2 separate regions of the Homo sapiens genome follow, and region 2 is linked to region 1. Evidence: fine-mapped expression QTL. A gene starts in region 1. The other region holds a variant in brackets. All regions are shown on one strand. Distances are from middle to middle. Region 1 holds the start of ADRA2C (adrenoceptor alpha 2C). Region 2 has its middle 28 kb from the start of ADRA2C.

The links. PIP is the estimated chance that this variant, and not a neighbour inherited with it, causes the effect.
Region 2: its variant is fine-mapped to the expression of ADRA2C in cerebellar hemisphere (GTEx, PIP above 0.99).

The regions. Positions count from the first base shown.
Region 1 is chr4:3,762,117-3,770,439 of GRCh38, reverse strand. It overlaps ADRA2C (adrenoceptor alpha 2C), which reads right to left and starts at 4,055. Exons shown (of 1, transcript NM_000683.4): 1 at 1,914-4,055. The coding sequence starts at 3,833. The coding sequence ends at 2,445. RefSeq lists enhancers at 1-268, 955-1,640, 1,833-2,350.
Region 2 is chr4:3,734,228-3,742,550 of GRCh38, reverse strand. No RefSeq gene overlaps it. Among named protein-coding and RNA genes, the nearest start is that of ADRA2C, 28 kb to the left of the region's middle. The variant A/T (reference allele first, on the strand shown) is at 4,944.

The DNA.
Region 1 (8,323 bases):
GTGCCCTGGGCGGGACTTGGGGTCTTGAGTGCTGGCAGGTGAGGGGTTGGGGGTCTGCCCTCCCGTCTTGCAGTTGTGAGTTTTGGACCCCTCCTGCCGGCTTGGTAAGATGCAGATTCTGGAGCAGAAATCCTGAGCTCTGGAGTCTTTTTCATGTGTGTACAGTGATTCTCTCGCAGCCCAAGGCCTGCCCTCAGAGTGTCCCTGGGTGCGATGTCAGCCATGGAGTCTCTGAGGTGGGGTCTCCTGTGGTCCCAGGCTCAGGGGATAGATTGCCCAACAGATTGGCAGGCCTGGCAGGGCCCAAGAGGGCTCCCAGGACCCCCTCCACTTCCCAGGTGGGGCACCGAGGCCCAGAGAGCAGGGATTTGTCTGAGCCAGTACAACAGCTCCAGGACAAGCTGGGCCAACAGTTCAGGACTCCCTGCCCAGGCCTGGTCGGGGGAGGTCAGGGATGTCCTCATCGGCCTTGACTGGCCATGTTCTCCACCCCTCCCCTGCCCCCACTGCTGTCTGTATCTCCCCACCTGTGTCTGAGACTAGCACACAGCAGGTGTGAGCATTAGCACATGTGCCAGCTGTGGACACGGCTGGGAGAGCTCTTCCCAGCTGGGGTATCCTGAAGACCCATCATCTGGGGTGGAAGCCAGGCAGCTGCGGCGAGGGGGTTCTCCAAGGGCCAACTCTGGCAAGTCAGGTCCCCCTGCTCTGGAACCTGACTTCGCGGACGGGGGCTTGCAGAAGAACACAGGACCCAGGGCTGACCCCTCCCCAGGCAGACCCTGGCCCCCCATGCCAAAGAGAGAGGTGGGTATCCAGGATGGATCTGGGCTGGGCTCAGCAGGCAGGGTCTGGCAGGGGAGGGTACACATAGGGAAGCCCAGGGGGGCCTCCCAGGGATGGGAAGGGGGACGGGAATGGGGAATGGATGGTCACAAGCAGGAGGCCTGACACAGCCCCCACACGCCTACCGAGCTGTCTGTGCGTGTGTGTTGGGGGGACCCCTGCCCAGCTCCTGCCAGGCGCAGGTCCCGCTTTTGCCCCTCCCCTCCAGCCATCCTGGCAACTTCCAGGCCCTGTGACACGGCTGAGTCTGAGTGGTCCCTACACCATGAAGGCCCAGCACCAGGAAGCCCACCTTGGTATTCTGTCCCCCACTTTCCACTGCCCTTCCTCAAGCAGCAGTGTGAACAGTGTGGACACCTGCTGGGCCTGACGGTGGAGCAAGGGGGAAAGGCAGGGCTGCACTGGGAAGACCCTGGGGGCACCACAGGAAACAGGCCGGCCCCAGGCCCCTCTCCAGACATTGCTGGTTTGTTCCACTCCACTGCTCTGGGGCCTCAATGACTTTCAGTTTGTTTCGGAAATAAGAAAGTGCCTGTTGTTCAACCTGGCTCTGGCCAGGCCTCTGGCCTAAGAGTGATGGTGTGGGGGCTTGCCGGCCTCACGCCCACCCTCTCTCCACCCAAGAGCCACGCCCACAAAATGTTCAGAGCCAGGAGGACTAGCTCAAAGCTACTCTCAGTCTTGGACTGGAAGAGCCCCACCTCTTTCCACCGGAGGCCCTGAATATCAGAGTGGGGAAGGGCAGGGGGCAGGGATGGGAATGCAGGGAAGACAGTCCCCCAGAATCTAAACTTGGGGTCAACTTGGGGGTTCTAGGCTCCTTTCACCTCTTCGCTACTCTCAGCACAGGAATTTTGAGTACATATTTTCCATGTACATAAAGGGTTAGCTTGAGAAAAAGCAAGACCCCTCCTTCTCATGCAAGAAGGAAGTTGTAACCCGGAGGCCCAGGGTGCCCTCCGTCCAGCATTGTGGGGTGGGGGAGATGGGGGAGGGTGTCAGGCAGGGTGAGGGTCTGGAAGATACCCCCAGCCCCCAAGCTCAAGGACTGACTGCGGCACCCAACATTAGATTACAAAGGTTTATTTAGAAAATAGTTTGGTTGTTTTGGCTGTTGTTTTTGGCAAACATTTAAATACTTTCAGTAATCAAAGATTGTCGGTGCTTTCTCCTTGCCCCCTGGCAGCCACCCCCCGACTAGGTCCTGGAGAAGTCAGCCCTTGGTCAGACGGGGATGGGGAGTGGTAGTGTCTTTGGGGGGCTCCTTGCTTGCCCATTTAGGGGGCTACCTCTGCCACTGCTCTCTAAAACCCTGACCTCACAGCCACACCTCGGCAGGGCTCCCAGAGCTGGATCCAGGCAGGGAGCCCCAGAAGCAGCCCCTTGCTGAGGGGGGAAGGCAAAGGGGTCTCCCCCTCTCTCCTCCCCACTCCCTGGAGCCCGGCTATCTCTCTGCCAAGCTCCTGCCCTGCCGCACCCTCCCCTGCGCCCTGGAGGCCAATCCATCCCCGGGTCTCTGGGAAAGCTCCCCCGTCCGGGCCGCCCCTTCTGCCCAGCCCCGAGCGCGGAGCTGTCCAGGATTCCCAGACGGGTGCGAGTCACTGCCTGAAGCCCCTTCTCCTCCGTCGGAAGAGGATGTGCTTAAAGGATCGCCGGAAATCCTGGTTGAAGACCGTGTAGATGACCGGGTTGAGCGAGCTGTTGCAGTAGCCGATCCAGAAGAAGAACTTGAAGAGCGGGCCGGGCACCTGGCAGGCCTCGCGGCAGATGCCGTACAGGCTGTAGCTGAAGAAGAAGGGGAACCAGCAGAGCACGAACACGCCCATGACCACAGCCAGCACAAAGGTGAAGCGCTTCTCGCGCGCCTGGGCCACCTTGCGGCGGCACACGCTGCTGCGCGCCCGGCGCCGGCGCGACAGGAAGAACTCGACGGAGCGCGAGCTGGCGCGCGACAGGCGGCCACCGGGCCCCGGGGACCTGGAGGCGGTCAGCGCCCCCGACTCAGCCGCCCCCGGCCCCGCCCCCTGCCCGTCCGCACCGCCCGCGCCCCCCTCCGCGCCCGCTCGCCGCCGCCCGCCCCGCCGCAACGCGCCCCGGCGCCGCCGCCTCTCGGCCGCTGCGCTGCTCTCGTCCGGCTCCACGTCGGCGGGCGGGGGCGCGCAGTGCCCGTTCTCGCCTGCGCCTGCCGCCGCGCCCAGCCCGTTTTCGGTAGTCGGGGACGCACCGTCGGGGCCCACGGGGGCGCGCTTCTCGCTGAGCGTGCGCGTGCGCAGCTTGGCCACTCGGTAGATGCGCGCGTAGACCAGGCCCATGATGAGGCAGGGCGCGAAGAAGGAGCCGATGCAGGAGGACAGGATGTACCAGGTCTCGTCGTTGAGGCCGCACTGCGGGTAGGCGGCGCCGTCGGGCTGGCGGTAGAGCGAGACCAGCGGCGGGAAGGAGATGACGGCCGAGATGAGCCACACGGCCACGATGGTGGCCTTGACGCGGCGTGGTGTGCGCTTCAGGTTGTACTCGACGGCCTGCGTCACCGACCAGTAGCGGTCCAGGCTGATGGCACACAGATGCACGATCGACGAGGTGCAAAACAGCACATCGAGCGCCAGGTACACGCCGCACCACACCTGCCCGAAGTACCAGTAGGCCATGAGCTCGTTGGCCAACGAGAAGGGCATGACCAGCGTGGCCACCAGGATGTCGGCCGAGGCCAGCGACACCAGGAAGAGGTTCTGTGGCGCGCGCAGCGCCCGGCTGGTCAGCACGGCGATCACCACCAGCACGTTGCCCACCACGGTGAAGACGATGAGGAAGCCCACCACGGCAGCCAGCCCTGCCACCGCGCCCGCCGAGTACTGGCCGCGCGGCGGCCCCCAGGAAGCCCCCGAGGCATTGGCAACCCCGCCGCTGCCCCTCTCGCCCGCGCCGCTCGCATTGGGGCCCGCCGCTGCCGCCACCGCCAGCGCCGCCGCCAGCGCCGGGGACGCCATGGTCCTCCCGCGAGCTACGCCGTCCCTCCTGGAGCCGGGGCGCAGCCGCGGCAGCTCGGGCGCCCCCCAGCCGGGGTCGGCGCCCGCATCGCCGCCTGCTGCTCGGGCGCGCCCGCCGGGGACCGCGGCGCCCAGCAGCCGGCCCTCGGCCGTGGTGGCTCCGCGGGCGGCGCGCCGGAGAGCGTGGCTGCCGGGCTCCCCGCAGCTGCCGAGCGTGTAAGTGCAGAGCAGGAGGCGCCCGGAGCGAGCGGCGACGCGGCTGCGGGGGGAGGGGGGCAGGTCCCGGGGTCCTCGCGCGGCCCCGCCCTCGGCCCGGCTCACGGGGAGCGCCCCGGCGTCGAGCCCACGGCGACGCGGCGCCCGAGCGGGCGTGCCTGAGCGGCCCCGCGGTCCCGGAGCCCAGCCGGGGCGCAGGCGACAGGCGGCGGCGGCCCGGGCGCTCCGCCTCCCATCCGGCCGGCTAGGGCTCGGCGCGCCGGGGCGCCGGCCGCCGCTCCTCCGGGCCCCCGCGCCCGCGCGCTCCCTCCGTCTCCAACTTTACTTTCCCGGGCGGGGCGCCGGCGCCGCCGCGAGTCCTCCGGCTGCTCCCGGGCGCGGGCGCCCCCCGCGGTCCACGCTTGGCCGTGCGGCCGCCGCCTCGCTCGCCGGAGCTGCGCCGCCGCCGCCGCCGCCGCCCTGCGCTGGGCGCGAGTGCGGCCGCCTGCGATCGGCTTCCAACTTGGGTCGAGTTGCGCAGCGGGGCGGGCGCGCGGGGCGGGGCGGGCCGCGGGCCCTGGGGAGCTGGCCGGGAACCGGAGCCCGCGGCCGCCTGGTCGAACCTGCCCGCGCGGCGCCGGGGAGGAGTCCGGGGCGGCGGCGCGGGGCGCGCGCTCGGCGAGGGCGCCCCCTCCAGGGCCGCCTGCAGCCTGCGGGACGGGGCCGAGCGGCGGCCGGCCTGGGTGGTGAGTTCCAGAAGCTGCTCTTTCTAAGACTGGAGCCTCCTTCGCCTCCCCCGGCGCAGGCATGGGCGCAGGCGGGGGCGCGCACACGCGCGCGCGCAGCACGGGCGGCTCGGGGTCCATGGCCTGATGGCAGAGCAACCTCTCGCAGCCTGGGGGAGGACGCGACGCTACCTGCGTGCGCACAGGTCCTGCCGAGCTCAGGGTCCGGACCAGATCCTGGATCGGCGCTCCCCGTCAGAGCCACCTCCGCACCCACCCCGGCCTCAGTTCCCTCGGCCCACTTCCCAGCGCTGCTGGAGCATGAATCATAACTAACGGCGGTGTCTGTGGAAGCCCTGGGCAAGCTCCCAAGCTCTGCACCCATGTTAGCAGTGATTGAAGTTTAATCCTTAGGCTCTCAGGCCCTGCTTTTAAAGGATGGAGAGGTGTTCAAAGTCACCACCTCTGACAAACACCCAGAACGGAGCTGCCTGGATGATGGAGCTTTTTGCAAGGGTGGGCTCAGGGGAGAGCGGCCGTTGAGGTAGCCCCCGTGCACCCTCGCCCCCGTCCGCGCACCTCCATTCTGCAGATGTGCACTGCCACGTGCACTGCCACTCTGTGGCCCATGTTGGGTGCTGGCTTCTGCCTCCAGGCAGCCTGGGGTCTGTGGGAGAGGGACTTCCAGGGACGAGGTGATCCAGGAGGAGAGCTGGAGTTCTCAGGCCTGACGTTTCTCTGCTAGGACCGAAGGGACGACCCTTCTCCCAAACGTCCAGAAACGAACCCCAGCTGGCTGGCCTCTCCCTGCATGGGCCCGCAGGAGAGAGGGAGGGAAGGTCTGTCCATCCTGTGGCTAGAACCGGCGGGGAAGGGGCGCTTCTGAGTGCCCGGGAGGTCATCATGAAGAGCGGCTGGAGTGACTGCCCTACCCCCGGGATGCCTATCCATGCCCGTGGCCTGGGGCAGCTTCTCTCTGAGCTCCTGAAGGGCGCCAGCTTTAGCCTCAGAGCCTGTCGTGTTCTCTGCTGCTCAGCCCTACTGGGGAGCATGTCTGTCTCCGCAGAGACACTGCCAGGAGCTACGGCTTCGTTCTTCACCATGTTTGTCACCAGCAGGGCCTGCATTGGGGGTGTGGAGGCCGAGCCAGGGCCCGGCAGAAAGCAAATATTTCAGATGATGGGCCTGCCAAGCAGGGGCGCACGTTGGAGCCAAAGCCTTCTGTGCCAGTCCTGTGCTAGTCTAGGGCACATATGCCCTTCGGGGAGGCAACAGGCCATGGCTGTCCTGTGGGAGGTGTGTGACCTGGGGATGGTGGAGGGTCACCATCCTTACTAAAGGCCCTCCTGGTTCTGGTTGCCTAAAAGGTGCCACCTGTCCAGGGCACCTGGAGGTGCATTTTTCAGGGAAGCCCACACACACCTGCTTCCTTCATGGTCGGCCCGCTGGAGCCCTTGTCTCTATTGAGCCCTCTGCGATGGCAGAGAGTGAGGGGGGCCTGGCCTCAGTTGAGGTGCTCACCATCTGTGGGTGGATGGGGCCACCCACTGAGGTGAATGCGCTGACAACCATCAGTGCCCTGGGGCTCCTCCCCCAGCCTGGGAGCGGGGTTGTCAAGGAAGCCTTCCTGGAGGAGGTGACCAAACTGTGCTTAGAGAGTGAGGAGGTGTTATGAGGAAGGGGGAGGCCTCTGTAGGCTGTCCTTCTTCCAGTGGGAGTGGGCTTTGTACTGGGGGCGTGGGGAGACAGGAGGACTAGGAAAGAGCAGTGGCAGGGGCCAGATGCAGGCTTTGGAGAAGGTCTCTCTCCCTCGGCATCAGCGTGCCTCCCACCCCCATCCTGAAGGGCTCTCTTTTTGAGAAGTGCTTTGGGGGATGCGCAGGGGCATGGGGATCTATCTAGGATCCTGGCTCCTATGTTCCCAAGAGATGGCAGCCCAGGCACGGGAATTTGGAGGGAAAAGGACACGGAGCACCTGGGGCCCTGAGCCAGATGAGCCTCCCACTGCCCAGGAGGGCTGAAGGCAGGGGCCACTCACAGGCCAGGCTGAGGGCATCTGGAGTGCCTGGCCAGTGAGCGGCCCAGGCCCTTGGGGATGGCAGCCAACAGGCTGACATGCTGCTGGCAACACCTCCTGGCATGACCAGGGAGGGGTCAGAAGGGTCCACTCCAGGGCCTGGATGGAGCCAAGGGCAAAAAGCTGGGGCCTGGAGTCATTAGGAGGAGCGAAGCCCTGGGCCATGCATAGGGGTTGCATTGCACGCAGGCCTGCCTGTGGTGGGAGGGCCCGGGACCGCAGCTGTTTGCAAGGAAGCTGGAGAGGACTCTTCCCCCAGACCTTGAAATTAGGCTTGAGGAACTGCTCCGGATTGTCCGTAACAAGCAGAACAGCACGTACCCAGCAAGACTTCCTGTCCTGACGAGGCACGACGCGAGCTGGCACGACCAGGAGGGGCGAGGAAGGAGGGTGCTGGGGGAGTCAGGCTGCACTGGCGGGGGTTGTGGGGGCTGTCTGTGTGTACGTGTGCAGGGGAGTACATGGCAGAAGTGGGCATATTTCAGAGGGGAAACCTACAGGTGTTTCCTAGAACTGAGAACCTAGAAGTGGCACGTCCTGGAGCTGCAGAGGCGAACCTGCCTGTATCTCACCCATGATGCGTGGGGCCTAGGAGGACAGGGTTGGTCCAGCAGGGCCATACAGCCATGGGACATTGGGCCCTGGCTGCTGTGCCGGAGAGAGCTGGGTGCCTGCCTGGGATGCCGCGCTCTAGGCTTCGTGAGCAGCCTCAGCTCGGGTGGAGGGGAGTTTGGCTCCTTGAGCCCCCTCCCTGCACATGCAGGCATGCATGCACATACGCAGATGTACAGTGTCCACACACATATATGTATCCACACACATCCTTGTGCACACATAGATCCATGCACACACATGAATATACATATCATGAATACACGTGTGTTCATGCAAGCATGAACACCCATACATACACATATCCACACATGCATGCAAGCATGCAACCTATTCATGCACACTTGCATGCCTTCACACACACATGCATGCACACATCCACACACACACTGTCTACATATACCATGTGGATTTACAGTGCATCCATGCCTACAGAATATACACACATGTATGCACACATACATGTTCCCACACATGCACACATGCCTGCGTGTGCATACACATGCCCGTGTACTCTTCACATGCAGGTGCATATATACATATGCACTATCATACACACGTGCTTTTTGCACACGTATGTCTACACATGCATATGTATCACACTGGCATATGTAGAAATGATGCACCCATGCTGTGCACACACCTGTGCATACTGCGGGCACGCACAGCCTTCCCTGTGCAGATAACACGAATCCATGCACATTGCACACACGTGTGTATGCCTGTGCTGCACACATCTGTCCCTATGCATGACACCAGTCATGCATGTGCACACATGGCTTCGCATATATGGATGTGTACACACATATGCGGCACCTGTGGCCTTGCCCACCCTCCTAGGCTGAGGAGAAGATGTATTTCTGGGTTGCTGCTGCAGCCAG
Region 2 (8,323 bases), 28 kb after region 1:
ATCTTGGTGGGATGAGGGGCCCCAGAGCAGGTTTAGATGCACTGGAGGAGCTGAGAGCTCTGGGGGTGTGAAGGGGGAGGAAGGGGATAAAGCTCACCAAGGGCAAATGTGGCAGCCAAATTGGGTCCCCCAGATTTATCCATACCCTGGTACCTGTGAACGTCACATTGCATATAATGTAATTTTGCAAGAAGGATTTTGTAGATGTAATTACAGTTACTAATCAGAGATGTTAAGACAGGGAGATTGTCCTGGATTATCTGGGAGGGCCTGGTCTAAGCACAGAAGGCATTAGAAACAGGGAACTCCATCAGGCTGGAGTCAGGGCAGTGTAGGAGAAGTCAGAGAGATCCAAAGAGTGGGAAAGACTCCACCTGCCACTGCTGGTTGGAAGATGTAAGGACAGTGTGATAGGGGATTCAGGGAGCCTTGCAGGGCTAGGGACAGCCCCACTGGCCATCAGCAAGGGATAGGGACCTCAGTCCTAGGATGGTGTATCATTCGGTTTATCTCCAGATAAACCGAACCCAGAGGTCGTGTGTGTGTGTATGTGTATGTGTGTGTGTGTGTGTGTGTCTGTGTGTGTGTGTGGTTGCAGGGGCTGTCAAGTCCAAAATCCGCACGGCAGGCTGGCAGGCTGGCAGGCTGGGAAGAGTTGTGCTGAAGCTCCAGTCCGAGTCCGTCGGCTGCCGAAATCCTCTCTTCCTCCATAGGGAGTGTGGCCTTTTCTCTGAAAGCCTTCACCTGATCAGATGAGGCCCTCCCACATCCAATCAGGTGAAGCAGATGGCCTGATTTAAATCTTAATCTTTAAGAAAAAAAATTACCTTCACAGCAACATTTAGAATATGGTTTGACTAAATAAATATCTGAGTACCATGGCCCAGCCACGCTGGAGCATAAATTTCACCATTCAAACTCAAGCATCGGGATTCTGCCACACCCTGCACCAGGCCAGAAGCAGGTTCTCACCAAGAGCCTCCAAAGCACAGCCAGGCCCTGGCATCTTGATTCCGGCCTGGTTAAACCTGGAGCAGGGGGACTGGCTGAGCCCGTAGGACTCCGGACCTACACAGCCGTGGGAGGAGAAACATGTGCTTCTCAACACCACGGAGCTTGTGGTCACTGGTTACAGCAGCGTGGGCAGCCCACAGGGTAAGCCCTTGATGGCAGCGGGCCTGCTGGGGTGGAGAAGCGCTCAAGTGGGTGAGATCGAGATGCCACACAGCTGAATCTGGGCATTGTCTTGGGCCTTTTGCCAAGTTCCAAGGTGAGCTGGCGTGAAATCTCTTAGCCAGCAGAGCAGGGAGATCTCTGTGACACTGCGGCTGAGGGAGACCCACCGGCCTCACATCAGGGATGTGCTGGCTGTTTCTCAAAGCCTCCAGTGAATAAGCCACAGTCCACCCCTCCACACTGTCACATGGGACAGCACCTCTTAAGCCATGGTCAGCCTTATCCTGATTGCCCTGGGGTCATTAGTGGCCTGCCACCCCTCACCTGCCCTTCTCACCCCGGGTGCCTCCCCCTCCAGCCTGTCCTCCAAGTGGCTGGGAGCCCAGGTGTGTGGTGCTCCTGGGACCTCCAGCCACAGAACAGGAGCTGTTCCCTCCTCCCCTGCTTCATCCCTCAGGACCCTGCAAAGGACTTTGCTCTAAAACCAGCTTCTGCTAAAGTCATTGATCACCTCAATTTCCTGAGTGAGGTGACATGGCCCTGGGGGATGGGTGACCACCCCAGCACAGGGATGATAGCAGAGACTTGGACCTCCTGATGCCCAAACCCAGCTCTTCCTCCACGGCATGGGGTGGTGCAGATGATGCTGTCATCCCACGTGTTCGTGGCACTTTGATCATTTTGAGGGACAAAAATCCTAAGTGACAGGTCATGAAATTACGGCCAGCATGGTTAATCAGCAGCGGAACTGGCCCCGGCCAGCATGGTTAATCGGCAGCTGAACTGGCCTCGGCCAGCATGGTTGATCGGCGGCGGAACTGGCCTCGGCCAGCGTGGTTGATCAGGGCGGAAGTGGTGTAGGCCAGCGTGGTTGATCGGGGCGGAACTGGCCTCTCTCCCTGTCACTAGCGGCAGAACTCGTCGAGTGGCCTATCGTGCTCTTTGATGAGCGTTTACAGCTGTGGCTTGTGTGACCTCTGATTCTCACGGAGAGGGCCCCGGACGCGCGTGGGGCCCTTCACAGTCTGGCAGTGCTGCTGTGCTGGGTTTCTGGGGGTGGAGGTTCCTCCCACACCCAGGCCACACCTTCTTCCAGCAAAGCGGGGCAGGGGTGCTGTGGGCAGGGTGGGCTTGCTGGCAAACCGCTGTCACATTCGCCCAGATAGCTGTGTTCTCCTCCTCTCCCTACTGGGGACTGGCCACTCCCCCAGGTCCTGGAGGGCCCAAGGACCAGGCTGAGGGAGGGAGGTCTCTTTGCTGAAGCTTGAGGGAGCCTGGGATCCAGGGATCCTGCAGAGCCCACCTGTGCCCAGGTCTGGGGTACAGGTGGCTCCCAGAGGGGAATCCTCAACTAACGGGAAACTGACAAGCTGGCGGGGACTAGAGGGCCACAGAGGCCCATGGGAGTCCCAGGGGTGCCTCACCCCGCCCAGGGAATCCCAAAGACTCCCTGGAGGAGGCCAGGCAGCTGGGCCACCACAGTTGGTCTGTGACTGTGGTTTCAGGGGGAGCATGGTGAGTGCTGCCCACGCACCTCAGCCCGGTGGGATGGCGCCAAGGCCTTGTGGCGCTGGACGAGGTCATCTCAGCTCTGCGCTGTGGAGGGGCCTCTGCCAGCTGCAGGCCACGCCCTCGCCTCATGTCCCTGGGACCTCACATCGCAGCCCCGGGACAGCTGCACCTGCCACAGGCCAGGTCAGGACTGGCCTCATTCCCCCGACCCTCGGTGTCAGGCCTCCAGGGTGGGAGCATGAGGCTGTGCTGGACCCAGAACTGCAGCTGTTGGTGGGGCCAGGTGGAGAGAGGGAGCCCCAGGCAGCCAAGCCTCCTCTCTGTACCCCGAACATATGAGATCCCCAGGGCTGCCATAAAGAGTGCCACAGACTGGGGCCTAAACAACAGAAACAGAAAGATCTCCTCTCCCAGCTCTGGAGGCCGGGAGTCCGGGTCAGGGTGTGGGCAGGTCTGGCTCCCCTCGAGGCTGCGAGGGAAGAATGGTCCCATCCTCTACCCAGCTCCTGGTGGCGCCAGCAGCCGCGGCCGCTCCTTGGCTTGAGGAAGTGACACCCCGACCCCTGCCTTCTTCCTCCCACGGCACTCTCCCTCCGTGCCTGTGTCCAAATCTCCCCCTTTATAAGGACATCAGCCAGATTGAATTAGGGGCTTCCCTATCCCAGCATGACCTCATCTTAACTCATGACATCTCCAACGACCTTATTTCCAAATAAGGGCCCACTCTGAGGTCCTGGGGTTGGGACTTCAATATGAATTTTGGGATAACACAGTTCCCCCATAACCCCAAGCATGGGCCCAATTTGCCCACTGCACGGGGCAGAACTAAAGCCCCACGCCGCCCCTACCCTCTTTGCAGGGGGTCAAGGCCATGCAGAGCTCCCTGGCCTCCCCCAGGGAAGACCTGACCTCCAGGCCAAGCAGCTCACCCAGGTCCCTCTCCAACCCCACCCGGAGCTCTCTTTGACAAACGCAGAGGTTGCATCTTATCATCTCATGGCCTCTCCGGCCCTGTGGGCGCCGCTTGTAGGCTGGCCCCGGGAAGCTGTCCAGTTTAAACCTAGCCAGGCGCGGTGGCTCATGCCTGTAATCCCAGCACTTTGGGAGGCCAAGGTGAGCGGATCACAAGGTCAGGAGATCGAGACCATCCTGGCTAACATGGTGAAACCCCGTCTCTACTAAAAAATAAAAAATAATTAGCCGGGCGCGGTGGTGGGCACCTGTAGTCCCAGCTACTGGGAAGGCTGAGGCAGGAGAATGGCATGAACCCAGGAGGCGGAGCTTGCAGTGAGCCGAGATCACGCCACTGCACTCCAGTCTGGGCAACAGAGCGAGACTCTGTCTCAAAAAATAAAATAAAATAAAAAAATTTAAAAATAAATAAATAAATAAACCTGGGGCAGCCGTCTCTCCAGGGTAAGCGACAGTGAATCACACCAGTGGACGGGCAAAGCCAGGGATGAGCAGGGCCCACTCCTCCGTGGGTGGCGAGGGAGCAGGCCACCTCACCTCCCCGGCTCTCTGCTGTAGCAGCCACTGAGGGTCTGCAGGAGTGCCACCCTCACCCCACCAGAAACGCCCCACCTTCCTGTCTCCTTTCCGCTCACTGTCCTCACAGCCTGTCCTATGCCCAGCCTTGCCTCAGTGGAGATGAATAAGCCACAGTCCACCCCTCCACTGTGTCACGTGGGACAGCCCTCTCAAGCCGCAGTCAGCCTCATCCTCACTGCCCTGGGGCCGGTGGTGACCTCCTACCTGCCCTCCTTACTGTGAGCGCCTCCCCTATCCAGCCCATCCTCTGAGCGGCCTCCAAAGGCCCCCCTAAAATGCCTGTCTCATCGTATCCCTTCCTGGCTTATCCAAACCCCAGTGGAATTACCAGGCTCTGTGCCCATCTCACCCCTCCTGAGACCCCACAGAAGAACAAGTGAGAACTGGTTCATGCCAGGAAGGAGCTTGGGAGGGATACAGGTGCCAAGCAGTGAGAGACGCCAACCAGTTTCTGGACCATGGAAAGGAATGGGAGTGGACTCTCGGTGAACGGAAGAGAAACCCACAGCCTGGCGTCTCCACGAGTGGCCGCAGGGGTGAAGCAGGGTGGGCTCCGGACTCAGAGCCCAGGGACAGCCAAAGGCAGGTGTGAGAGGAGGGGCTGGAGGGGACAACTGCCCCTCACCCCCAATTCCTCACTTGGAGTGAAGACAGGAAGCTTATACCCCAGGAAGTAAATTAGATTATTCTCCAAGCAACTCAAA[A/T]GAACTGCCTGTGGATACCAGCAGGCCCCCCAAAGGCCTGTCTCCTTCCAGCTCCTGGGACACCAAGCGGGAGAGGTGGCCGCTTTGCCATTCCCTCAAAGCGGAGCTTCCAGGTGACACCTTGTCCTACCCCAGGGGAAAGAAGAGCTACTCAGACAAGAGCAGAGGTTGCTCCCGCCTGCCCCTGCCCAGCATCCCTCCAACAGCCTGAAACGGCAGCATGGACCTCAGGGGAAGCAGGGGCTCTTGAAACAAGTCCCAGCACATTAAGCTTAAAAACAAGAACTTCTAATGAAAGTGCTCAGAGGACTCATGAAAATATCACAATCATAGGAAGACACAAATAGAAACAATGAGAGAACAAGAAAGAACACTGGGAGGTTGAAATACAATTGCCAAAATACAAACTTCAGCAGAGAATATGGAAAATAAAGTCGAGAACATCCACCAGAATTTAGATTAAAACAAAAGTAAAGGACCAAACCAGAGGACCTAATATCGGACAGACAGAGTCCCAATAAGAAACACAGGAAACAGAGGGAGACGATGGCCAGGGAATTCACAGAACAGATGGTACAGCACCAGTGTCACGATTTCTTCCATTTCCTGTGGCCTTCCCTGGATGGTGGGAGGAAAATAGCCCATAGCCAGAGGCATCGTTGCTGAATTTCCAATCTCCATGGATGGCTTCCAAATTTCCAGGAAAAGAAAACAGGTGAGCCACAAAGGGAGCAGAATCAGAAGGACTTTTTTTTTTTGAGACAGAGTCTCACTGTCACCAGGCTGGAGTGCAGTGGCTCGATCTCGGCTCACTGCAACCTCTGCCTCCCGGGTTCAAGCCATCTTCCTGCCTCAGCCTCCAGAGTAGCTGGGACTACAGGCACGCACCACCACACCCAACTAATTGACTTTCTAGATCTCACTGGCAACACTGGAGTCTGGGGAGAAGATGCTTTCTCGGTTCTGAGGCAAGTAATGTTCGACCTGGCATTCTATACACAGTCAAATGGTTTATCAAGTGAGAGGACAGAATAAAAACATTTTCACAAATGCCAGAGCACACGTATTTGTTTTTCATACCCTTGTTGCTAGGAAGTTACTTGAGGATGTGCTCCAGCAGGAGCAGGTGGCAAAACAAAGAAAGGGAAACACAGGCACTATGACTCTGTAGATCCAGCTCTGTGTGGAGGGAAGGGAAGGTCGGGAATAGTGGAGCAGACCTGGGGACAACCAGTCCACACTGGAACAGACACCAGGGGATGCGGGGAGGCTTCTGGGCAGCAGGGGGTGGGACAGAATGGATGTTATGATGGAGAAACAACGATTTTGAGGGAGAAAAATAATGATAAATAAAGGCATACATATAAAAATTGGGTCATTAAATCTCCACGAAAACAAGAAATCACACAGGAGACTTGGGGAAAGACTGAAATGTGATATGATCTGGAACAATGAGTGGAGAATGAGTAAAGAACCCATTTGGCTGGGGGCGGTGGCTCACGCCTGGAATCCCAGCACTTTGGGAGGCAGAGGCAGGCAGATCTTTTGAGCCCAGGAGTTTGAGACCAGCTTGGGCAACATGGCGAAACCCTGGACCATGCCTGTGGTCCTAGCTACTCAGGAGGCTGAGGCAGGAGGATTGCTTGAGCCCAGGAGCTTGAGGCTGCAGTGAGCCAAGATCATGCCACTGCACTCCAGCCTGGGCGACAGAGCGAGACCTTGTCTCAAACAAACAAAAAAATAACCCACTTGCTCTGCAGTTACCCTCAAATTCCCAGGGATTGTGGGAGAAGACGTCACGGCAGGCCTGGCCTCACCCTGAGTGATACTTACACAGTCATCACCATCCACACACTCCTGGCTGATTTTTGAATGTCAAGGCATCTCAGGGCCAGGCCTAGTAGGGCCAGGCATGGTCCCAGGACCGAGGACACCCCCAGCCTGGACGCTGTGGAGGGACGTGGGAGGTGGAGCTGGGTCTGTGGTTGGACCCACAGCTTTTTGGGATTCTGTTCGTTTGCCCACCGGCTCCTCTGGCTTCCATCGCTCTCCTGCACTAGAACGTAAGCTTCATGGGGCTGAGCCCAAGACCGTCTTGTCCCCTCCTGCTGGGGCCTCCTCACATGGAACCTGGGGCCAGGTGTGCACTGGGCCACATTCACGGGCAACCGACTGAGCTCCTGGGCCACCCAGCCCCTGGGAAGAGCCAGCTGCCACAGTCACAACCTCGTCCCCAGGTCACAGCCGCTGCTAGGCCCTCGCACTCCTCCAGAGCTCCAGGCCCATCCCTGTGCCGCGTCTCCTGACAGCCTCGCCTCTGCCCCACCTGGCCCATGGGATGGGCCTTCTCCCCTAGAGCCTGGGGGTCTAGCTGCGTCCTCCAGGGTGAGAGGGCACTGCCTGGTACATAGGGTGCTCAAGGCCACCTCAATACTGTCTATAAAACTGGGTTTGCCCCACTAAGCACCATGGTGATGTCGTCTTTCCAAGCCACAGCCTTTGCCTCCATCAAGGGGGTGGGAATTGGGGCCAAGGGTTTAAGCCAAGTTTTATGAAAACGACTGGGTGAAACCTCCACACTGCAATGCCTGTTACACAGTCTCCCGCACCCCACACCACGCGCCTTCACACACACACGGGGAATGAGCGTCTCTCGTCTCCGGGGTGGCTGATGGGACCTCAGGGGCACCTTCCTTGGGGCCATCCCACTTTATGCCCTTCCCTCCTTTCTGGCAACAGACCTCTGCTTTTGCTGTCATCTGACTATGCCTGATCCCACGGTCCAGTCTGCCCAGGTCTCTGGGTGGGCACCTGACCTAGGTGAGCCCACTCCCCAGCCACGGGGATTGCCCCAGAGGAGCCCATCAGACGCTTCCCCGGGACACATTTCTAGGGCCACAGGGCTGGGCACTTTCCTCTCCCCTGGACTGCTAAGCTGGGCAGACGCAGCGACTGTAAGACGTGCCTGGCAGCAGCCTCCAGCCTGGACTTGGACAGAGATACGGGCCCCTTCTCATGTCGTTGGGTCCTGCTGTGCCTGGGCCCATCCTGGTCCCCAGACCCCGTTACAAAATCTTGACTGGCTTGAGTCAGGCCGTGTGTGGTCCCTGCTGCCAAGAAGGCTACATCTTCTGGGGCTGCCCCTTTCCCACGGGGAACCCCCCGTGTCCTCCCTCTTGCACAGGAGCCCCCGTTTTGCCTGTGACTGCCCAGGTCTTTGGGTCCCCGCTTCCCATCCCCGCCAGCAGGGCCTCATACACGGCGGGCCGGTTGCCTGCCCAGTGGAGATCTCGGGATGTGAAGATGAATGAGGAGTGTGGCCTCCCTGGTGTGGGGACCTACTCTGTCGTGGGCAGGTTAGCGACATCGTCCTTCACGCC